Linked DNA regions of Homo sapiens: regions 1 and 2 are each linked to region 3. The links come from fine-mapping of genetic effects on gene expression. A gene starts in region 3. Each other region holds a variant in brackets. All regions are shown on one strand. Distances are from middle to middle.

Region 1 (8,184 bases), 140 kb after region 3:
TCCTCTGAGAGCCACTTTCCTTGGCAATAAAATCCCCTGCATTTACCATCCTTCAATTCGTTCATGCGACCTCATTTTTCCTGGATGCCAGACAAGAGCTTGGGAGCCACAAGTGTGGACATAAAAGGCTGTCACACTGGCCCTTTGCCCTCGCTGGTGGAGGGCAGTCGTCTCACACGACGAGGCAAAGGGCTCACTGAGCTGTTAACACTTAAGCCATCAGAGGACAGCAGAGCTAAGAGAGCACTGTAACACGCCCTCTGGGGCTCCAGGTGTCACAGGCACCCCCACCTGGATGTTGCCATGGGGCCCGCACAGAGCTTGCTCTTGCTGGTGCCGAAGCGGCTGGCCAGTTCCAGGCCTCGTGCACTCCAGTCCCCGCCTTGTTTGCTCGTGCACTCCCTCCTGTGAGGAGTGGAGAGCTGTGGGCTGAGTAAACGATGCACCCCTGTCTCGAGTCCCACAAAGGGGTCAGGCAAATATCCTGCCTCGTGTACACACACATATCATTTTTTTCTTTTTTGGGGGCGGGTACAGGTAAGGGAGGAGACCACCCCTCATATTGTCTTATGCCCAATTTCCGCCTCCAAAGAAAGAAGTAAAAACTAAAAGGCAGAAATGAAATCCACAGGCAGACAGCCCAGTGCCGCGCCCTGGGCCTGGTAGTTAAAGATCGACCCCTGACCTAACCGGTTATGTTATCTATAGATTCCAGACATTGTATGGAAAAGCACTGTGAAAATCCCTGTCCTGTTCTGTTCTGTTCTGATTACTGGTGCATGCAGTACCCCCTGCTTGCTCAATCCATCAGGACACTCTCACACGGACCCCCTTAGAGTTGTAAGCCCTTAAAATGGACAGGAATTGCTTAGTGAGGAGAGCTTGGCTTTTGAGATGCAAGTCTGCTGAAGTTCCCAGCCAAATAAAGCTCCTTCCTTCTTTAACCCAGTGTCAGAGGAGTTTTGTCTGCGGCTCGTCCTGCTACACAGGGTCTCGCTCTGTCACCCAGGCAGGAGTGCAGTGGCGGGATCAGGATTCACTGCAACCTCCATCTCCCAGGCTTAAGTGATACTCCCACCTCAGCCTCCCTAGAAGGAGTAGCTGGGACCACAGACGCATGCCACCATGCCCAGCTGATTTTTGTATTTTTTGTAGACTGGGTTTCACCATGTTGCTGAGGCTGGTCTTGAACTCCTGGGCTCAAGCGATCTGCCCACCCCAGCCTCCCAAAGTGCTAGGATTACAAGTGTGAGCCACTGTGCCCAGCCACATATAACTTTTATAGGGCAAAAAAATTCTCCATTACCAAGCTTATTAAAAATTGGGGGAAAATATTTCAACATCTGTATCAGACAAAAGGTTAATATAAATAATAAGGAAAAAATTATAATCGATAAGAAAAATTTCAAAACTCTATTAGAAAAAAAAACAGGAAAGGCAATTTGCAAAAGAATTACAAATGATTATTACCTAACAAAGAAATGTTCAACTATTAATCAATAGAAACAGATATTTGAAAAGCTTCTACTTCTCAGTCTGACAAAATTTTATCAGCATTGGCAAGGGTGTGGTGGAAGCAGATGCTCTTACATCCTGTTGGCTTGAGGCTTCCCGAAGGGCGCTTGGGCTTCAGCTCTTAAAAGTATTAGAAAGTGAATATTCTTTGATCTGGCATTTTACTTGTAGGTATTTATCCTGAAGAAATAAATAGACATAGATATACCTGTGTTTATCAGGAGTATGGCCACTGTGATTTATACTAGTGAAAATTGTTAACAGCCTAAATGCTCAACAATGGAGATTGGTTAAATATATAAATATATATTTATAAACATATAAATAATAAATACTATGATATAATACATATATATTTGTAGATATACGTATATGTATGCTATACATATATGTATAGCTGGACTATATGGATTACATGTATATAGGATTTTTAAATTATTAAAATAATTATATAAATGTATATTAAGGCTGGGTGCAGTGGCTCACACCTGTAATCCCAGCACTTTGGGAGGCCGAGGCAGGAGGATCACTTGGGGCCAGGAGTTCGAGACCAGCCTGGCCAACATGGCAAAACCTGTCTCTACTAAAAATACAAAAATTAGCCAGGTGTGGTGGTGCATGTCTGTAATCCCAGCTACTTGGGAGGCTGAGGCATGAGAATTGCTTGAATCTGGGAGGTGAAGGTGGCAGTGAGCCAAGATTGCGCTGCTGCACTGCAGCCTGGGTGGGACTATCTTAAAAAAAAAAAAAAGTATAGTAAGAACCTGGAAGGAACTTTACATTATACATTTTTAAGTGAAAAATAGCATGTGTGTATTTTGGAAAAGCAGAAAAGGTTTTAATATTAACCGTTCGTCTGATACAGATATTGAAATATTTTCCCCAGTTTTTAACAAGCACTGTAGTTTGGTGCATGGAATCAGAAGTCAGACTGCTTGGCTTTGGATCATGGCTCTGTCCCTTTCTGGTTCCACCTCTTAAAAGCTGTGTGACCATGAGTAAGTTACTGAACATATGAACAGGACAAGAACTCTGGACGTGTGGGGATGGAAGGTGGAACTGAGATTCGAGTCCCATTTGAGCGCAGAGCCTGTATTCTTAACTTCTGGGCTACATGGAGCCAAAATAAACAGTGGCAGAGAGAGAGAGAGAGAGAGAGAGATGCAGATAAATAAAGATAGTGAAGGGTATTGGATCGATTATGTTTTAAGTACTTTCAAGGCAAGATTTTACTTTGTCTTTGAATTCCCATCATTTAGTTCCACACCTGGTGCATAATAGACACTCATAAATGAATCATTGGGTAGGGTCATAGGCGTGATGCAGAGCAGAAATGCTTAGGTTCTAACAGTGGGGCCATGGGTTGGCCATTCAGATTTGTAACTAAAAGAAAGAAAGAAAGAAAGGGCCGGGTGCAGTGGCTCACGCCTATAACCCCAGCACTTTGGGAGGCTGAGGCAGGCAGATCACCTGAGGTCAGGGGTTTGAGACCCTCCTGGCCATCATGGTGAAACCCCATCTCTACTAAAAATACAAAAATTACCCGGGCATGGTAGCACACGCCTGTAATCCCAGCTTCTCAGGAGGCTGAGGCAGGAGAATTGCTTGAACCTGGGAGGTGGAGGTTGCAGTGAGCTGAAATTGTGCCACTCTACTCCAGCCTGGGGGACAGAGTGAGACTCCATCTTAAAAAAAACAAAGAAAGGAAAGACAAAAAAGAAAAGAATAGGGAATCTTCTAAAATGAAAAAGGGGCACTAAGAGAGAGTGTGGAATATGGTAGATGAAGGGATCAACTCCTTTCGGACCCACAACCTCTTCTTTTTAAGGCTGCTTGAACTATTTATTAGTCTGTAATTAGAGTCCCAAGCGTTTCCTTCTGTTTCCTAAAGGGTTGGAAAAATGCCCCGAGGGCTTGTCACCATAGGCCTTCCCCACTTCTAATCAGCCAGATGGCAGCTGCAGGAAGTGGCAGCTAAAGCAACAATCACAATGTGGTGTTGACAGTGTAGATCTTCCACTGAATGGGGAGTATGAGGAAGCGTAGACAGTGGAGTTTTTCAGCCTGGATTTTAGAATTGGTTTTTGTCAGTTGGGCTTTATATATTAGTTGGGAATAACTAAATAATTTAAACAACAGCTATTTGATTATACTAATCTATTAGGCCAGAATCGAAAAGTGCCTTTTAAAAAGTCCTCCTGGATTAAAAATTTCTCTTAGAAACATTCATAATTCATTGCTGCTCTTACTAATGTCAAAATCTTACTGACTCAGTAAATGGCAAAAGGTGCATGTGGTGTTTGTGCTTATGTATTTATTTCATTATTTATTTGGATATGGGATACTGCATAGAAAGAAAACACACTCTGACTCGTTAGGTATATAAATCTCATAATCCTTAAGGGAAAAGAGACCAGGGAAGTGTATCTACCACTGGAGATTTTCTTTGACATTACAGACTTAAATGCTGTCACTGGCCTCCCTTTGCAAGGGCACATTCTGTTCAGATGTGTTAATAGAAAGAAAGCAGAGT[C/T]TAATGAAAATGCCAGAATGTCCTTTGGGAAGCTGACAAATAGAGTGTGCTGCTGATGTGGACTCAAGCTGCAGACCATCCATAGGCCTATTATTAGAATAGGGACAATGTCCAACCGTTCCTAATTGCTGAATGACATACACCTGCCACTTAATTTCCTCAGTGTCACCTGTGAATTATACCTAAGATCAAACAGCAAGAACATGTATTCATTCAGATATCTGTGTGTCCATCCATCCATCCATCCAGCCATCCATCCATCCATCCATCCATCCTGCCAAAAGATTGAATGTGTTCATTTAAAACTGAATATAGCAGGCTTCATCTGATGGTGCAAATATTTCTTCTTGGATACTGTGATGTGACAAGGTTTTATAGTTAAATAGATTATATTTTTCCATCAAAACAATATTATAATTGAGAGCTTGCTTCTGTTCAAAATATCAGAAATAATTACTAATAAGCTTCCAAATAGTTAGCCAAAGCAACAATATAAATAAAACCCTACAAACTTCTATAATCTATAATATAGCTTAAAAAAAAAGCAAATTCCAAGACATAGAATCTGGGAGATGGCAGAGACTTTGATAATCTTTTCTTTATTTAATAAGAAGTGAGAAAATCAAAGCTCAGAGGACTGGGTGCCACCCACTTAACTTGCCTGCTGTCACCCACTTAACTCAGTAAAGTGAAGGCAATAATAGCCTTGGTCCCCAGGTTCTCAGATCCATGTTCCCTATTTAACATGCTATTCCTGTCCCCAGAAAAATCCTAAGACACATACACGCGTGCTCTCTCTCTCACCTCTCACATTGCTTAAATAAGAGACCACAACATACTGTGAAATGCATATGATGTGAAAAGATACAACTATGGTTCGAGTGTCTAAATTAATAGCTAGCCAAAATAAATGTGACCAAAATCACAACTTTAAAAATTGTTTGCTCTGTCAAAAGCTAATAAAATATGGAGGTAACAAGGTAGAAGCCTGTTTCTCTTAACAAAACTGTTTGGGAACATTTGAGTCAGTAATTACATGGACACCATTTTCTGCCCCACCTAGACCAAAGTCTATTCATTCCTTTTTCCTTCCTTATAGAACCCTCATTTTATTTGGGTCCCTGCCACTCCCCTGCCCCTGGGCGGTGTCTGTGCCTCAGGGGAAGCCAACACTTCCAGGTCCAGGTCCTGCAGGTCTCAGGGGTATTTCAGTCCCTTGCTTGTGATTGGTTCTGGAAAAGGCACTTCATTCAAGTCAGGCAAATGAGACGATACTGGAGGGGAGGCCTAGGGGAGCTTCCAGAAGGTGCTCTCTTTTAAGGTTACTTCATGAGGAAGTAACTTATAAGGTTACTTCACGAGATTGGCCACAACACCTCACTACCTAAGTGACTTCCAAGGAAGCCAGCTCACATTGTTTATCATTTCAGCCCATTGAATGTTCCCAGTGGAGACATTCCACAATGGAGACATTCCACAATGGAGACATTCCCAAAGGAGAATTCCACAGTGAACGTGAATTCAGAATCCCTGCTCCAAAGGTGATTAGGGTATAGACTAGAGTTTCCTGACTTTTTTTGTCACCTCTCTAAAGAACCTTTTTAGATTTTTTTTCTGATATCCTCCCCACAAAATTCAATACCACAAACATACTGCTTATCTGCGTGTGTACTCTGTGTGTATCTGTGCCTTACACATTAACATAGTAAGATATTTTTGTTTCCCAAGAACAATTTTTGTCTTCTGGAAGATGGTATCATCTCCACCAAGAATGGCTTAGAGGGAGAGACAGGCTGTCCTAAAGAGAGGTATTAGGATGAGGATATCCCTAGGATGGGGGTACCCACTCATTTACAGAAAGTAGGGGCATTGCAAATTCTTTTACAAAATTGCCATTGACGAATATGAATATTTAAAAGTCTCACCACGGACTTTATTTGGTCTTGAATTCATTCCATTCCATTGTTTTTTTCTCATCCCCCTTCATATTCTCACACAACAGCAACATCCTAGCAGCCTGGAAAGAGAAAAGAGGCACAAAGGTCAGCTTGGGATAGCATGGGGGTGCAGGGTCCTAAGCCTTGGCTTTGTTGGCAAATCGCCTTCATTTCTGTCATGTCTCTGAAATGTCTCTCCCATCTTTCTCTTCTTTTTCATCTTCTTTGCCACCATCTTTATAAGCCTTCATCACCTCTGATCTGGGTAATGGACTCTCTTTTCTTTTTTTTCCTTTCTTTCTTTTTCTTTTTCTTTCTTTCTTTCTTTCTTTTTTTTTTTTTGGAGACAGGTTTTGCTCTTGTTGCCTAGGCTGGAGTGCAATGGCGCGATTTTGGCTCACTGCAACCTCTGCCTCCTGGGTTCAAGTGATTCTCGTGCCTCAGCCTCCCGGTTAGCTGGGATTACAGGCATGTGCCATCATGCCCAGCTAATTTTGTATTGTTAGTAGAGACAGGGTTTCACCATGTTTGTCAGGCTGGTCTCGAACTCCCAACCTCAGGAGATCCACCTCCCTCGGCATCGCAAAGTGCTGGGATTACAGGCATGAGCCACCGTGTCCAACCACGATCTCTCTTTTCTTAAGCATTTATTAAGGACCAACTGTATTTCAGTTGCTATTATAATCTCAATCAATACAGCAACCCTGTGAGTTACATATTAATGCCTTCATTTTACAGATGAGGAAATGGAGGCTCAAGAATTTTAGTGTCTTGCCCAAAGCTAGACCCACCAGTAAGATATAGACAGAGCTGGGGCCCAGGTAGGCCAAGTAGTACAACTTACGTCCATACTCCTTCTACTGGATTTTGTAATATCTTTAATGTGTTTAAAAAAATCACACAAGTGATAAATGAATACATTCTGTTTGCAAACAAAAAAAGATGTAATAGGTTAATGTTCCCATTAATTATCTCTCTCTATTCTTATTTTCCCCACCTCCATTCCCCAAGGTAACCACTGTCACCATTTGATGTGGCTCTTTCCAGATCTTATTCTAGAAATTTCATATATCTATCTGTGCCTCACTGCACACGAGGGACCAGAACAGGATGGTGGCGCTCACAAGACCTGGGAGGCGACTGCCCGGATGAATTCCCATGACGCTACATCTTGCATGTGGCTAAGCAGCCTCACTTGGGAATGGGTTAGTTTGTAAATCCTTCTCCTCAGAAAGTACAGGTTTGTGATGTGCAGGTGATTCTATCCTCTGCTCCAGATCATGTAGTGAATATTTAGTATGTTTCATTTTGTTTATGTTTCCATCTCTTTCCCTTCTCTAGATGATTTCTCCTCATCACCTTGTTTCTTCTTTTCTTTCCTTTTCTTTTTTTTTTTTTTTGAGACAGAGTCTCACTCTGTTGCCCAGGCTGGAGTGCAGTGGCGCAATCTCAGCTCACTGCAAGCTCTGCCTCCCAGGTTCAAGCAATTCTTCTGCCTCCGTCTCCCAAGTAGCTGGGACAACAGGCATGTGCCACACGCCCAATTAATTTTTGTATTTTTAGTAGAGATGGGGGTTTCACCTTGTTGGCTAGGCTGGTCTTGAACTCCTGACCTCAGGTGATCTGCCTATCTCCGCTTCTCAAAGTGCTGGAATTACAGTCGCGAGCCACCACACCTGGCCCCTCATCACCTTTTAACCAGAACAGTTAGGTCGTTTTCTTTCTCTTTGTGATGGCAACAGTTATTTTTATAGCTGTCTGGGGAAGGTGCTTAGGTAAATATCAGTTTGAGCTGTACAGTAAGCTTAATATAGCCCTTTTCTATGATTGATGAATTCACTACCTTCTTTTTTTGCACTTTTTGTTCAGTCAATAGAACTCGTGAATTAGTGATAGGGAAGTAAATTAGTTTAAGGTTGACAAACTTCCTAGAACCACACCCAGGGATTACACTAGATCAGATACACATAGTCACCCCTGCTCCTGTACATTGGTCCTCCAACCTTCTACTTCCCTGCAGTGGGGCATGCAGAAGGAAAAGGGACACATCTGTGAGGGAAGAAGATGATGCTGCTGACCGGCATAGACACAGGCACAGGCACATAGGGTCCGAATCTGGAGGGACCTACCATAGGAAGCTGTGGTGTGCACCCCTAGAGCCACTATGCCATGACTGTGCCTCCTTGGAGCCACCATCCA
Region 2 (8,184 bases), 28 kb before region 3:
TTCACAGGCTTGTTTGGAGGATTCAATGAAATACACTCAAACTTCAGCTCCCTTCTAATCATTCTCTCTCCCTTTCCCAGAGACAGTATTTGGAGAATAACAGAAACCAAGCCTTGTTAGGAAAGTTTCTTTCAAATTAGCTTAGAGTTTAACATTTTTTTTCTAGAGCCCTAGGAAAAAAACGCCCAATCAGTGCAATAAAAATAGGCTCAAGTGTTCAGTTGGGTATTTTCCTCTCATATCTTTTAGTTCTTTGAAGTTTCTTCCAAATTATAATCCAAAAATAAGAGTGCTACAATTTTTAGAAAAGTTATGTTGATGTAACTTTTATAGCAAGCTACCCAAAGAATCAAGCTATATTATAGCCATGCTCAGTTATGAAGACCAAAACTATTTTAAAAATACCAGAACGAGAAAGTCCTAGTTTATTTAGTCTGGCTTCCTTAACATGAAGGTCTTGTTGTTCTCAAAATATTCAGCTTTGGCTGAATTCCAAAACTGACATAAGCCCACTTCAGGTGTTTGGAAGACACTAAAGAGAATCAGAATTGAAAACAAGATTGGAAAATAAAGCCTTTTATGTGATCACAAATGCAAGAAGTGTATTGTTTTGAAACTACTAAACCAAGTTTTTACCCACAAATGTAAACATAAATATGTATATATTCTCAACACTGGACGTACAGGGGACTAAAGGTTAATTTCCATAATATGGTATTATTCCTAACATTTGCTAACAGCTAAGTGCTTCAGTTACTAGAACTGCCTTAACATTTTCTGAAATTTGAGATAGGTTGAAAGATACATTTCTTTCATGGATTATGCTAGCAATCACTTTAATGGCGAAACTAATCTTATTATTAGGATAGCATACAGGTGTTTTAGACAATGTTAAATTACAAACTTTCTAGCCCACCATGGTTTATGGGGTAATAAAAAACAGGCCCTGGTTCTTTCACCAAAATCCTTACAAAGATAACACACAAGTTCAGTGTAAGTTGTAATGTTATTGCCTTTGGAAGCACTGTAATTACTTCAAAGTCTGGGTTGGTGAGAGGAAATTCAAGCTACTAAAACTTATCGAAGGTAAGGTGAGTTGGGAAGATCATCACATGGCATGCAAATTAATATAGTTACACTCTGCGTGCATGGTATGTCATCGTTCCCGTACTCTCAAAACTACACAGAGAAAAGGAGAACCTCATCTAAAACGGTCACAGGTATATGCAGAAAGAAAACAGGGACCAAACCTCACAGAAGCGAAACCGAGACACTGAAAGGAGAAAGACTGACTGGGGCAAATATCTCACACTGCTGGAGAACAGTTCAAGTCGATCGCATGGACCCAGGGCTCCAGCGCTGGGCGGTGGGTGGATCCATAGGTCTATCGCACAAGTACACACAGACTCTTGCACAAGCACACACGCTCTCTCCGGAGCGGCGAGCGACAGGAGCAGTCACGCAGCGGCGCTCGCTGCCCCCAAAGTGGGGCAAGAAGTAAATGCTTCCCGCCCAGAAAAATGAAATGCCCCGAAGACCGCCAGATTAAACGCGGGTCCCGACCGCGCGGGATGGGAAAGGGGTCACACACGCACCTGCATTGTAAAAGCGGTCCAGCACGGTGGTTTCTCCAAAGTCGAGTTTCCCAAAATGCAGGGTTTCCAGGGTGGCGCCCACTGTCTCGCACGCCTCCCGCAAGCTCTGCAGGGCCTCGCTCTCGGCCACCACCAGTTGCCCTTGGCTCGCTTCGTTGATCACATATGCCACCGTGGTCCGTCGGCTGCCCCCGCCAACAGAGCTGCCCCGGCCTCGGGTGGCACTGCTCGAGGAGGTGGCCGCCGGACAACCGATGCCAGGGGCAGCGGCGCTCTCCACGTTCCAGAAGCTGCCCGGCGGCGGCGGTGGCAGCTGGTGCTCCTCGCCCTCGCCCACCGCCGCCGCTCCTCCCCTCCTGCAGATGCCGCCCTCGGGGATGGTGCAGAAGCCCGAGGGGGCGAAGGGTGGCACAGAGAAAGTGATGCCCTCGTCCGCCTCCGTGCTCATCTCTCCGGGCCGGGCAGCAACGGCGGCGGCGTCCCCCGCCCAGCCGCACCGCCTGGCCAGCCACAGCTCGGGGCTGCTCCGCGCCCGCCGGGCTAAGCAGCTGCCATCGCGCGCCGCGCCCTCGCCGCCGCGCCGCCGCCTCCTCTCCGGCGCCCTCTCCCCCGAGGGCACGCCGCTGCCCGGCGGCGGCTCGCTCCTCCTCGGCGCCTCCGTGGCCGCGCCGCTCGCCCTCTGCAGAGTTTAGAGTACAAGGGGTGGGGAAGCCGGGTGAGCGGGAAGGGACGGAGCTTCCTTTTCTTGGCCGGCTGACAAGTCGGCTCGCAAACCTGCGCCGCGGTGCAGCTCAAGGGCGCCGCGCTCGGGGTGCAGCCCGCCCTCGCCACCCGCCGCGCCGCGCCGCGCCGCGCCGCGCAGCTCCTTCCGTCCCGGCCGCTCTGGGAGGGGCCAGGAAGGGCGCCCCCTGGGTGCGGAGCTACCTGGCGCGCACCTTACGAGCGGGCTGGCTCCCCAGGCGGCGTCCCGGAACAGCAGCAGCGGCAGCCGAAAGGACCCTCCTCCCTCTTAGGCGGCAGCTCGCCTTCATCGGGTGGATTTCCTCCTCCTTGCCTGGCCTCGTTTCTCTTTCGATCGCCTCCGCCGCGTGGTCCCGGCGCCAGCCTCGTCGTTCCTTGCAGACGCTCTCCCTCTCCACCACCAGCTTCTGGCCACCCACTCGTAGCGGCACCGAGGGTCAGGGCCAGCCCCCAAGGAGGGCGCTGCTAGGAAGCTCGAGCCCGGACTGAACTGACCGCGCTGCGGCCCTGGGACCCCAGCCCTCCTCTGAGTGCTGCGCGTGGCATAGGGTCCCAGTCTTCACCCACCCGGCCCCCACCTACGAAGACCTGGAGCGCAAGCGATTACGGGGTGGCGCAGAAAGTCCCTCGAGGCAATACTCGGTCTTCGGAGTCCGCCCCTGAAGCATTTCCAGTGTTCCCCGCGACTAGGGCGCCCCCCTCCGGGCCTTGGCGGCCTGGTGGACTGGGACCGTGCGCGGCGCTGGCAGGATAGGCTCCGGGAGACCCACGTTGCGCGAGGCAGGAGGTTGTACATAGCGCCCTGGAGCCAGGGCCTGCACTGGAGGTTGCTTCATTAGTGACTGTGGCACTCCAGAAGTGGCTGGCTAAATTGATCAGGTTCTCCCATGTACTTTTCCTTTTAAAATTTCCAGTGGCTCATTCCGTTATCAGTAATGAGTAATTGATTAGTGCCAACTGCCGAAGGACTTAGTATTCTCATTTAGGATCTTAATTCCCCCACAAGCGCCAGATACTTAAGATAGAAGATGGAGTCTCTACCCGACTCCACAAATTATCAACAAGATGAAACAGGGGAATAACGTGACCTATTCTATTTTTTAAACTGCATCACGCGAGGCCGGGAGGGAAATACCCAGATTGTTTAAGAGCAATCAAAAAAAGTACCT[G/A]CTTATTTGGGGAGCAAAGAACAGATGTGTAAGTTCCCAGAGAACCCCAGAATGCTGTAATTGTTAGGAAAGCCAGTGCAAGTTACAACTGAGTAAAGAAACAGGTTTTGTACTTCCCATCTCCAGGAACTGAGACTAGTGAGTCCTGTGAAAAAGGCAGAAGAAAATGTAAATTACTTTTTTTTTTTTTTGAGACGGAGTTTCGCTCTTCTTGCCCGGGCTGGAGTGCAATGGCGCGATTTCGACTCCCTGCGACCTCTGCCTCCCGGGTTCAAGCGATTCCCCTGCCTCAGCCTTTCGAATAGCTGGGATTACAGGCATGCGCCACCACACCAGGCTAATTTTGTATTTTTAGTAGAGACGGGAGGGGGAGGGGTGTGGGGTTCACCATGTTGGCCAGGCTGGTCTCTAACTCCTGACCTCAGGTGATATGCCCGCGTCGGCCTCCCAAAGTGCTGGGATTACAGGCGTGAACCACCCAGCCCAGCCATGAATTACATTTCAAACTGGGTAAGAAGGAAGGATAAAATAGCTGAATAGTAAAGAATTAAAGGAAAGTCTGGGCGCAGTGGCTCACGCCTGTAATCCCAACACTTTGGGAGGCCGAGGCGGGCAGATCACTTGAGGTCAGGAGTTCAAGACCAGCCTGGCCAACATGGTGAAACCCCCGTCTCTACTAAAAATACAAAAATTAGCTGGACGTGGTGGCAGCCGCCTGTAATCCCAGCTACTCGAGAGGCTGAGACAGGAGAATCGTTTGAACCCGGGAGGTGGAGGTTGCAGTGAGCCGAGATGGCGACACTGCACTCTAGACTGGGCGACAGAGCGAGACTCCATCTAAAAAAAGAAAAAGAAAAAGAATTAAAGGAAAGAGTTCTTTAATTTTCTCCAAGGTGGGAGGATTGCTTGAGCCCAAGAGTTCAAGATCAGCCTGGACAACATAGTGAGACCCCCATCTTAAAAAAAAATAATAATTAAAGGAAGGAAGGAAATAGTCATGAGGAAAAACACCTAGCCGCTACACAACTGTATCAATGAATCAATGTGACATTAGATTTTTCTAAAGGTGTATAAAATAATAGAAGTAAATTTCTAGTAAGGAAACTTTATATTCTTCATGTAAAATGGAATCTATGTGACCCACACTAGCTTTTGGAATTAATATCAATAGTAAAATAGGTAGTGAATCAGTGATTATACTGAAACAAAATGTTGCTGAGCTAGTAATAGTTATGTGCCTTTTAATATTTTCAACAACTTGTCAAACCTCCAAAACCTTGTAGGAGTAAGATAATCCTCCCCGCTATCCTCACCAAGAACCACAAACTCTGGAAATCGATGAGGTTCATGTGTGGAAAACTAAAACGCCTAAATGCTCAAGTAGCATTTTACTGTAGAAATACAAAATCTGAAATTATATATCAAGCTATTTTCCAAAGCTGTAACTTTTTATACCCTCTCACTTTGTGCTTTCCTTCCAGATCCTTTCAGAGCCATTTTCATACACAATTTTTATTTTTTGTTTTACTTTGCTGGCTTTTTTGATTTATTAACTTTAAATATGTTTTTTATGTTAGGCACCCAAACCCCAATACAATGTTGAAATTCTGCTTCTAGCTGGTCCAGAGATTCTCCCTCTACCTAAAAGGCACGGTTTAGGTAATTTATGTTCCATAGCATAGGGTTATGAGATAATGAGGAACTAGCTGGCAAGATTCTGGAAGAAAGGACAGGAATCCAGAGGGTGAGTCTACAGTCAGGGTTCCCTTTGGCTGTGGGATTTTTGTGGATCTGAATTAGGCAGCTGAAAGGCTGAAGTGAATTTTTTTAATGAAAAATAACGGTATTTTGCAAAACAAAACAAAAAGAATGGTGACACCGTTGTGCATTTTCACAAATCTTTTTAATGTCTGGCTTAATAGATGACAGTGGATTCTCATTTCTGCTTCTACATTCATGCTGTTGCAGCATGTTGTTTTGGTTGAAGGGTATAAAGAAAATCTGGAGAAGTTTCTGAAGTGTAGGAGGTATTTGAAGAAGTACATGAAGAAAATACTCTGGGAGGAGCACAGTCACTCCCACTGTGAAGGCACACATGAATTCCTAAAAATCACTGAGCTGTGCAAAATAGTGCTTTTTTTAAAGTAATTTCAAGTTTTATTTTAGATTCGGGGGTACATGTGCAGGTTACATGGATATATTGCATGATGCTCAAGTTTAGGGTACGATTGTTCTTGTCACTCAGGTAGTAGAAAGAGCACCCAACAGTTGGTTTTTCAACCCTTGCTCCCTCCTTCCCTCCCGTCCGCAGTGTCTGTTGTTACCATCTTTATGTCCATGTGTATCCAATGGGACCCTCTCCTGGGAAGGTCTTAAGACCCACAGTCAGAAAGGTGGGGGGTTGTTAGCAGGTAAAAGGAGAGCAGGAAAAAATTAGAGGCCTGCCTCTGAGGCCTAACACACTCAACATAACAGAAGACTATAACGAGGGTTATGGGAGTTACAAGCCAGAAACCACAGATGAAAACCAATATATATCGTAACACCACACTCTGTTCATAGTTTCTTTGGTTGTGCAGAAGCTGTTTAGATTAGGTCCCGTCTGTCAGTTTTTCGTTTTGCTGCAAATTGCTTTTCAGGACTTAGTCATAAATTCTTTCCCAAGGCCGATGTCTAGAATGGTATTTCCTAGGTTTTCTTCTATGATTCCTAGGGTTTGAGGTCTTACATTTAAATCTTTAACCCATCTTGAGTGAATTTTTGTATATGGTGATGGGTAGGGGTCCAGTTTTATTCTGCATAAGGCTAGCCAGCACCACTTATTGAACAGGGAGTCCTTCCCCATTGCTTATTTTTATCGACTTTGTTGAAGATCAGATGGCGGTAGGTGTACGGCTTTATTTCTGAGTTCTCTACTCCGTTCCATCAGTCTGAGTGTCTGTTTTTGTACCAGTACCGTGCTGTTTGGGTTACTGTTGCCTTATAGTACAGTTTGAAGTTAGGTAATATGATGCCTCTGGCTTTGGCTTTAGCTATTCAGGCTCTTTTGGGGTTTTATTTTATTTTATTTTATTTTTTCCTGCTGTTCTACAGGCTCCTTTTTGGTTCCATATGAATTGTAGAATAGTTTTTCTAATTCTGTGGAAAATGATGTTGGTAGTTTCTTAGGAATACCATTGAATCTGTAGATTGCTTTGGACAGTGTGGCCATTTAAACAAGATTGATTCTTCCAATCCATCAGCGTGGAATATTTTTCTGTTTGTTTGTGTCATCTATGATTTCCTTCAACAGTGTTTTGTAATTCTCCTTGTAGGGATCTTTCACTTCCTTGATTGGATGTATTCCTAGATTGTGTGCGTGTGTGTGTGTGTGTGTGTGGCTATTATAAATGGAACTGTGTTCTTGACTTGTCTCTCAGCTTGAACGTTATTGGTATATGAAAATGCTACTGATTTTTATACATTGATTTTGTATCCTGAAACTATACCGACATTGTTTATCAATTCTAGGAGCCATTTGGTGGAGTCTAGGTATAGAATCTTGTCTTCAGGGGATGAGGCGCAGTGGCTCATGCCTGTAATCCCAGGACTTTGGAAGGCCAAGGCGGGTATATCACTTGAGGCCAGGAGTTTGAGACCAGCCTGGCCAACACAGTGAAGCCCCATCTCTACTAAAAATACTGAAAAACAAATTAGCTGAGCATGTAGTCTGTAGTCCCAGCTACTTGAGATGGAGGTTGCAGAGAGCCGAGATCGTGCCACTGCACTCCAGCCTGGGTAACAGAGTGAGATTCTGTCTCAAAAAAAAAAAAAAAAAAAAAAGATTCTTATCTTCAGGGAAGAGAGATTATCTGACTCCTTTTCTTATTTGGATGCTTTTTATTTCTTTCTCTTGCCTGATTGCTGTGGCTAGGACCTCCAGTACTATGTGGAATACTGAGAATGGGCATCCTTGTCTTGTTCCTGTTCTTGAGGGCAATGTCTTTAGCTTTTGCCTGTTCAGTATTTGTTAGCTCTGGGTTTGTCATAAATGGCTCTTATTATTTTGAGGTATGTTCCTTTGATGCCTAGTTTGTTGAGGGTTTTTATCATGAAGGGATGTTGGATTTTATCAAAAGCTTTTCCCATACCTATTGAGATATTCATCTAGTTTTTGTTTTTAAATCTGTTTATGTGGTGAGTCACATTTATTGATTTGCATATGTTGAACCAACCTTGGATCTTAGGAATTAAGCCTATTTGATCGGGGTGAATTAACTTTTTGATGTGCGGCTAGATTCAGTTTGCTGGTATTTTGTTGAGGATTTTTGTGCCTGTGTTTATCTGAACTGAATTCTTGATAACATCTTGAGGACAAAATTAAAGATGATATACCCTACAAGTAAGAGTGAACTATAGGTTAGATGGCCCGTACGTGGACAGCAATCCTGCTTCCATTCATCTGAGTAACCCAGAAAGAAGTCTCAAACCCTAAAATTGTATTAAGGTAGTTCCCTGCATTTGAGAAACAAAATTCACTCCAGAGGAAGATGACATCATCTTGGGCCATGAATTATTTCTACAAATATAAGATCTGTAAATGTAAGCAAATATTTGAATGCACGGTAGCATGGTGGAATCAGAGCAAGAATGTGAACTGAAATTTTTGCCATCTGTTTCTGATTTTCCCCTCTAGATTC
Region 3 (8,184 bases):
CACCTCATGTTGTTTTGTTGAGTTGAGCCTGCAGAAGAGGCACCTGTCTATCCAGCCATGTGGGGAATCAAGGAGCTGTCAGTACATGTGCAGCATCATCTAAAATATTAATCCTACCCAAGAGCTGAAAGTAGATAAATAGATGTCACACACTTTCCACCACACAAGCTAAAAAGCATAAGGCCTGGTTTCAATCCCAGGTTTCTGACTCTAAACACCATGCTCTTAATTGCTGTCTTTCCAGAAAAAGACGAAAAGACTAAATGCATTTTCTACTATGATCAGATTATACCAATTGCTCTTATATTTTTTTTCTCTCCTTCCACATAGAAGTGCAGTAAATGTATGTCCTAAACCAACACTCTAGTTAAGATTCTAATTTTATTGTAGCAAAATATACATACCATACAATTTACCATTTTAACCATTTTTAAGCAGACATTTCAGTGATGTTGAGTATATGCACATTGTTATACAATCACTGTCATCTATTTCCAGAACTTCATCTTCCTAAACTGAAACTCCATGCCTGTCACACAATAACTCTCCATTCCCCACTTCCCCTTGCCCCTGGCAACCACCATTCTATTTTCTGTCTGTATCAATTTGACTACACTATGTACCTCATATAAGTGGAATCATACGGTATTTGTCCTTTTATGCCTGGTTTATTTCACTTAGCATAATGTCTTCAAAGTTCATCCATGTAAGAATATCCCTCCTCTTTAGGGAAGAATAATATTCCACCATATGCATATATTACATTCTCTTTATGTGTTCATTTATTGTCTTAGTTGGTTCAGGCTTCTATAACAAACTATCATAAACTTGGTACCTTATAAACAACAGAAATATATTTATCACTGTTTTAGAGGCTGGAAAGTCCATCATCAAGCCATCAGCAGCAGGTTTATGTCTGGTGAGGTCCCACTTTCTGGTTCATAGATGTTCACTTCTTGCCGTGTCCTCACGTGGTGGAAGGGGTAAGAGGGCTCTCTCTCCAGCCTCTTTTATAAAGGTAATCATCTCATTTATGACCTAATTACATCTCAAACACCCCACCTCTTAAAACCATCACATTGGTGATTAAATTTCAACATATGAATTTGGGGGGGACAGAAACTTTCAGACCATAGCATCTGCCAATGGACACTTGGGTTGCTTTCACCTTTTGGCTATTATGAGTAATACTGCTGCAAACAGGAGTGTACGAATATCTGTTTGAATTGCTGCATTTAATTCTTTTAGATATATACCCAAAAGTGGAATTGCGAGATTATATGGTAATTCTATGTTTAATTTTTTAAGCAATTGCTATCCTATTTCCCATATCAGCTGCACCATTTTACATTACCACAGATTCTAAAATTTTTAACAAGAAAGTATAACTAAAATAATAAGTGATGAATGATATAAAACGAGCAAGGTAGACAATTAGCCCATAATTAGAGACTCTCAGAGCTTTAAGGGTCTCTAAAGTGCATCAGTCCAAGTATCCATCATATATTTGAAGATAGTGCTTAAAGTTCTTGGATGATGATTACATTAACCCTCTGGCAAACATTGATTAAAGGCTAACTAGGTACCCAGCACAATGCTGTGCAGAGCTAAAAGGAACAATGAAATTATCCATCCTTTCTTGGAATTATTTCCCATAACTACCATATGCAGCCTGCCGATTTACCTAGGATAATGATTCACCTGGGTAGAAAGACCACGTATTTCAATTATTTTACTTCTGGTCTCTCTCCATGGGAAAGATAGACTAGTTTTAAAAATGATGTGGGTTGGTAAATATTTGCAGTTAGAGTCTTTGTGAGGTCACCATAGCAGTTATAAAACAAAACAATCTAAATATAATTGTAGATCCTTATAGAAACCTGACATCTAGCCATGTCTGCCTACATTATTAGGCCTTCCACAGAGTTAAATGGTCTTCCACAGAGTTGGCCAAGTTTAGAAGTTACACAACTCTGAGGTGTAATGAATGCTCATAAAAAATGGTTTCTGTCTCAGTTGGGAAATACCAAGTACTCCTAAACAATGACAAGAACAGGTGGAAGACAACAAAAAGAGTCTTTTTTTTTTTTTTTTTTTTGAGACGGAGTCTCGCTCTGTCGCTCAGGCTGAAGTGCAGTGGTGTGATCTCAGTTCACTGCAACCTCTGCCTCCAGGGTTCAAGCGATTCTCCTGCCTCAGCCTTCTCCAGAGTAGCTGGGATTACAGGTGCCCACCACCATGCCTGGCTAATTTTTGTATTTTTAGTAGAGACAGGGTTTCACCATGTTGGCCAGGCTGGTCTCAAACTCTTGACCTCAAGTGTTCTGCCTGCCTTGGCCTCCCAAATTGTTGGGATTACAGGCATAAGCCACCATGCCCGTCCCTTCCAGGCAATTCTTAACTCCAATTCTATCCATACCCCTAGCAAACTTGGACTCCACTTAGTAAAGCATGGGTGGAGGAAGGGGTGTGGAGCAAGGGCAGGGGACAAGGAGAATCTAAGGAGCATTTCATGTTCCTTTTCCTTAATTTTCCAGTTCACCTCAAGTTGTCAAACATTTGTGCAGTGTTTACTATATATTGGACATTCTTCAAGGTACTGGAGACACAAACAAATTAGACTTGGACATTACTTCGAGATGCTCAAAATCTAGTGTAAGAGTATGGTTTATTTTTTATATGTTTAGTTGTTTATATTTTAGAAAGCTTCACAGGTGGGATGAAATATTTTACAATGCTATAATCATGTATGGTTAGGTAAGGAGCAGGTAATAGCTCAGTTTGTGTGTGTGTGTGTATGTCCAAGGTCACTGTAAATAGTTTACCCCAGCTGGAACCAGCCTTTCTCCCTCCCAGAGATACCACACTATTTTTAGCTTAGATTGGATAACTCTTTATATACAACTCTTTGCCAAGGTCCCAGCTGCTTCATGTTTGCTTACTTTGATATTTTATTAACGCCTATTTAGCATTTCAATAAACTCCAGAATGTTTCCAGGTTACTTTTTGTAGTATTACGAAAAACACACTGATCATTTAGGCACTGTATTAGGCTGCATTCACTCAACATTTCCTGAATGCTTAAATACCAGGTCCTTGGGATACAACAGCGAACATAACAAGCAAAAATTTCTGCCCTCATGCAGCATACATTCCAGTGACTACATATGATAAAAATCCAAAATAATAGAGGCCACACTGGTCTGGATCCTCAAGTGATCCGCCTGCCTCGGCCTCCTAGTGTGCTGGGATTACAGGTGTGAACCACCGCGCCCGGCCTGCAAAAGTCTTTTAACTGGCCTCCCCATCTCCAAACTCTATCCTCCATATTAGTGTTGCAGGACTTTTTAAAATAAAACCTTGGTCATTTAATTTCTCACATTAGAAAACTTCCACTGTTTTTCACTGTTTACAGTAGAAATCCAATTCTCTTAGTATGGTATATAAGACTCTTCATGATCTAGCCCCAGTAAAACACTCTACAGTCTCCCCACCCAATATTTTTTTCACCGTATCCCTTCCATCTGGCCAGGCTGAGTCCTGGCAGCCACGACCCCCTATGGATCATGCTGGTTTAAATCTCCTGGGTTGCTCATGTTATTCCTGCTCCTACAAAGATCTCCATCTTCTTGTCTACCTAAAGAAAACCTACTCATCTGTGTGCAATCACCATAAAGACTTATCTCTCTTCTGCAGCCTTTCCTGCAATTTCCATACCTCTGGCACGGACAATCACCTTTTAAAAATACCCCATATAAATTTATCATAGCCTCTACAGTATTTTGATTACACTTAACTAATTACATGACTTCTCTTTTAGTCTTCTTCTCTAATCTCTTGAGGCCATGGACCATATCCCATTATTTTGAATCCCAAATGCCTAGTACTGTTCTTGGTATATGGTTAAGATGATCATACGACTTGGTTTGTGCCTGTTGACCTGGCTTAATAATTACACCCTCTTTACTCTCAAAAGTATCTTGGTTTGGCAGATAAATTATATTTGGTCATTCTCCACATAGTATATGCCTGGCAATAAATGAATGAATGAGCACCAGCATCTGAGCACTTATTACCATACAATATATACATGTATAGTAATACTTTTTAAAAAAGTTGTATATGATGATGTGCTGCTTTTTTGCTTAGCTTCATTAGAACTGGCCAGCTCCTTTTTCTCACTTGCCAAGCATGGGGAGTTGGTTTGGAGTTGGTGTTTCATCTTTTCCAGTTACAGTGTGAAAGTAGCCCACCAGCCCACGCTCTTATTCCTAAAGACCGCAGTGACTCCACGGACTTAAGTTCTCATTGCTTCCAGTTTCCTTGGGCAACGCAGCACGCAATTTTGGACGCGCTGCGTGGTTTCAGAGTCGGCTGTAACTTTTCTCACTTTATAATCATCAGGAAAAGTTCCTGATGCCAGTCTTCCAAACGCTCAATGAAATAAAAACCAGATAGCACCGCAGAGGAGGCTGAGATGCAACGACAAAAGCTGTCGTAATTATTAATAATACCTAACCCTGGATCACTCCCCTGATAGATCTGTATCTTTGCAGCAGGCGCAATTCAGTTTGGATTCACCCAAAACAAAAATGGTCTCCGTCGGAGTCAACGCCCTTTCCTGTGCGGACCAATCAGAATCTCAAACACAGGGCACGGGGCCCACACTTCCGTCCGGTCTGCCTGGTCTCTCTAACCGCGCCAGTGTGCCTCCGACTCGGAACGGCTTCCGCGGCCGGGGCAGCGAGGGCCGGGGGCGGCGGGCGGGATGAGTGCGGTGTGCGGTGGAGCGGCGCGGATGCTGCGGACGCCGGGACGCCACGGCTACGCCGCCGAGTTCTCCCCGTACCTGCCGGGCCGCCTGGCCTGCGCCACCGCGCAGCACTACGGCATCGCGGGTGAGGCGGCGCCGCGCAGCTGGGGCCGGGGGGCGGAGGCGGAGGCGGGGGCCAGCCGGGCTCCAGTTCCTCGCGCTCGAGGGAAAGCCCCTCTGAGCGTAGACGGTTCCGCGGGTCCACGCCAGGGGGCAGAAGAGGCGCTGGTCGGCGCTTCTCCTTTCTTTGCCGAGTGCGAGGAGTTGGTCTGAAGCAGGAGTCGATCTTCCAGTTGTGTGCAAGTGCATATACGTGTAGCCTAGTAGCCCGTGTCCTTGTTCCTTGAGACCGCGCTGCCTCCGCCACGTGTCACACGCCCAGGCACACGTCCCCGTAGGGAGAGCCGGGGGAGCCTGCGCGGTCCCTTGGATCGGTCCGCTCGGCACAGCAGTACGGGGAAGACGGTCTGAGCCAGAACCGACCCAGGGCTCGCGAGTTGGCCCACAATTCCCAGTCTGCATTCGAGCACTGAGCTGCGACCTGCGGGCTGGCCTTCCTAAGGACGATGCTCCTGAATGGACGCCTGGAGTCCCACGGGTGACACCATGAAATATATCAAGTTCAGTTCTTACCTGTAGTTGTCTAACGAGGAATGCACACATTCGCAAGTAGGTGTTACAGACTCCAGTTAATTGTCTCCCGTCGCGCGCATTGGCTCAGCCTGTGGTTAAAGCTGCTCAGGAGGCTGAGGCGGGAGGATCGCTTGAGCCCGGGATGTTGAGGCTACAATGAGCTGAGATCACATCACTCTGCCCCAGCCCAGTGAGCTGAGATCACATCACTCCACTCCAGCCTGGGTGACAGACTGAGACCCCGTCTTAAAAAGAAAAAAGGCCAAGCGCCGTGCGGTGGCTCACGTCTGTAATCCCAGCACTTTGGGAGGCCGAGGTGGGCGGATCACTTGAGTTCGGGAGTTCCAGACCAGCCTGACCAACATGGAGAAACCCCATCTCTACTGAAAATACAAAATTAGCCGGGCGTGGTGGCGCATGCCTGTAATCCCAGCTACTCGGGAGGCTGAGGTAAGAGAATAGTTTGAACCCAGGAGGCAGAGGTTGCGGTGAGCCGAGATCGTGCCATTGCACTCCAGCCTGGGCAAGAAGAGCAAAACTCCGTCTCAAAAAAAAGAGTCCATCTAGTCCGTGGACTAGATGAAAAGGCGTAGGTTCATTCTCGCTTTTGCCTTAATTCATGTCCTAGCTATTATACGCACTGAAGCGAGATGCAAAAACTCATTTCATAATGTCAGTGGTCTATTGTATTTTTTTGTTTTGTCCTACAGCAGAAAAAAATGTTACTTCTAAAACTCAGAGAAATACTTGATTTATTTTCATTATTAGCTCTTAGTGCTTGCACATTCAGATTTACATGGCCCACCAGTTAGACTGAAGACTCATGAGTCTATAATGGTAGTAGTTTTCTTTTTTTCTTTTTTCTTTTTCTCTTTAGAGACAGGGTCTCACCCTGTTGCCTAGGTTGAGTAGAGTGGTGCAATCACAGCTCACCGTAGCCTCCACCTCCTGGGCTCATATGATCCTCCTGTCTCAACCTCACCAGTAGCTGGGACCACAGGCATGTACCATCACACCTGGCTAATTTTTGATTTTTTATTTTTGTAGAGACAGGGTATCACTATGTTGCCCAGGCTGGTCCGGAACTGGGTGCAAGCGATCTTCCTGCCTTGGCCTCCCAAAGTGCTGGGATTACAGGCGTGAGCCACTGTGACTGGCCTGTAATGCTACTTAAAATCTTATGCAAAAACTCTTTAAAGGGAATTGGTATTTAAAAAAAAAAATTCAGTCATGTTTAAATAGAAGAGATTTTCCCCCTTGGTCTCTATAAAAAGTAAACATAACTTTTAAAATACAATGGCCCTTTGGTAAAATAATCTTTGACAGGTAACATATTAATACTGTTTTCAGCACTTTATTACCACCAGTTATGTAGTAAATCCCACCAAGTATCTCCGCATTCATATTTTGTTTTAAAATCCTGTGTGAGATGTGTTTTAGATTTACTGGTGAGGAGTGCAGTCCCTGGGGTCTGTAAGCCAGAGGTTTCTCATCTGTCAGTAGGAATGATAACACCAACTTGGAAGGTTTGTGTCTCTGGTGCCTTGTCTGGCTACAGAGTAGGCCCTTAAGTATTTCACCCCCCTGTTAGGTCCATGTCTGAATTCCAATCATAGGTGCAATGGGAAGTTGAATATTTAGTAACTGAAGTACAATATGGAAAAACAGAAATAGAGAACACATTTGGTATTCATGTCCCAAAAACTTTAGGGAGAAATTGATCACCTGACCATTTGGTATTCAAGGTCCCAAATACTTTGGGGAAAAATTTGTGGTATTAAAATCAGGTATCAATTACTTGATAACTCCTTGACTTTCGATGTTACCCTGGCAGGTTCAAAGGGATGACCTTGATTTTTTTTCTCTTTAGGCTGTGGAACCCTACTAATATTGGATCCAGATGAAGCTGGGCTAAGGCTTTTTAGAAGGTAAGGGGGCTGAAATTATTAAAGGTATATATTGTTGCTATTAAAGCCTTAATAGAATTAGGTTTTGACTCTTTGATTAATGTTTTAATATACAGTATAAAAGGAACCTTGGCGTTTGCATAGGATGAAGCTTATTTTTAGCTGATTGTGGTGGTGCGCACCTGTAGTCCCAGCTATTCCCAAGTCTGAGGCAGAAGGATCACTTGAGGCCGGGAGTTCAAGACCAGCCTCGTGGGCAACATAGGAGGACCCCGTCTCTAAAAGAAATTTTTTTTTTTTATGCACAGAGTCTGGCTCTGTCACCCAGGCTGGAGTACAGTGGCGCCATCTTGGCTCAGTGCAGTCTTCCCCTCCTGGGTTCAAGTGATTCTCCTGCCTCAGCCTCCCAAGTAGCTGGGATTATAGGTGCCCGCCACCACACCCGGCTAATTTTTGTATTTTTTAGTAGAGATGGGGTTTCATCATTTTGGCCAGGCTGGTCTCAAACTCCTGACCTCAGGTGATCTGCCCACCTTGGCCTCCCAAAGTGGGTATTATATGCGTGAGCCACTGGGCCCAGCCTAAAAATTTTTTTAATTTTTAGGCCGTAGTCCCAGCTACTTGGGAAGCTGAGGTGGGAGGATTGCTTGAGTCCAGTTCAAGGCTGTAGTGAGCTGTGATTGGGCCACTACACTCCAGCCTGGATGACAGAACAAGACTCTTTCTCTCAAATAAAAAACAAAACAAATCTGAAGCCTGTCTCTTAGTGTCCACTCATAAATTATAAAATTTAAACATAAAAAAATGTGGAGCAGTATACTGTGTACTATT

Evidence for each region.
Region 1: its variant is fine-mapped to the expression of PEX7 in atrial appendage (GTEx, PIP above 0.99).
Region 2: its variant is fine-mapped to the expression of PEX7 in monocytes after Pam3CSK4 (Quach 2016, PIP 0.95). The same link has a PIP of 0.9 or more in monocytes after LPS and monocytes after R848.

Annotation. Positions count from the first base shown.
Region 1 is chr6:136,959,392-136,967,575 of GRCh38, forward strand. No RefSeq gene overlaps it. Among named protein-coding and RNA genes, the nearest start is that of NHEG1, 30 kb to the right of the region's middle. The variant C/T (reference allele first, on the strand shown) is at 4,049.
Region 2 is chr6:136,790,115-136,798,298 of GRCh38, forward strand. MAP3K5 (mitogen-activated protein kinase kinase kinase 5) reads right to left here and starts at 2,363. Exons shown (of 30, transcript NM_005923.4): 1 at 1,596-2,363. The coding sequence starts at 2,043. RefSeq lists enhancers at 1,113-1,628, 1,734-1,803, 2,594-2,823, 2,934-2,993, 3,364-3,443 and a silencer at 1,934-2,573. The variant G/A (reference allele first, on the strand shown) is at 3,506.
Region 3 is chr6:136,817,898-136,826,081 of GRCh38, forward strand. It overlaps PEX7 (peroxisomal biogenesis factor 7), which reads left to right and starts at 4,695. Exons shown (of 10, transcript NM_000288.4): 1 at 4,695-4,898; 2 at 7,317-7,374. The coding sequence starts at 4,769. RefSeq lists enhancers at 4,266-4,415, 4,299-5,031, 5,032-5,764, 5,146-5,305 and a silencer at 4,596-4,975.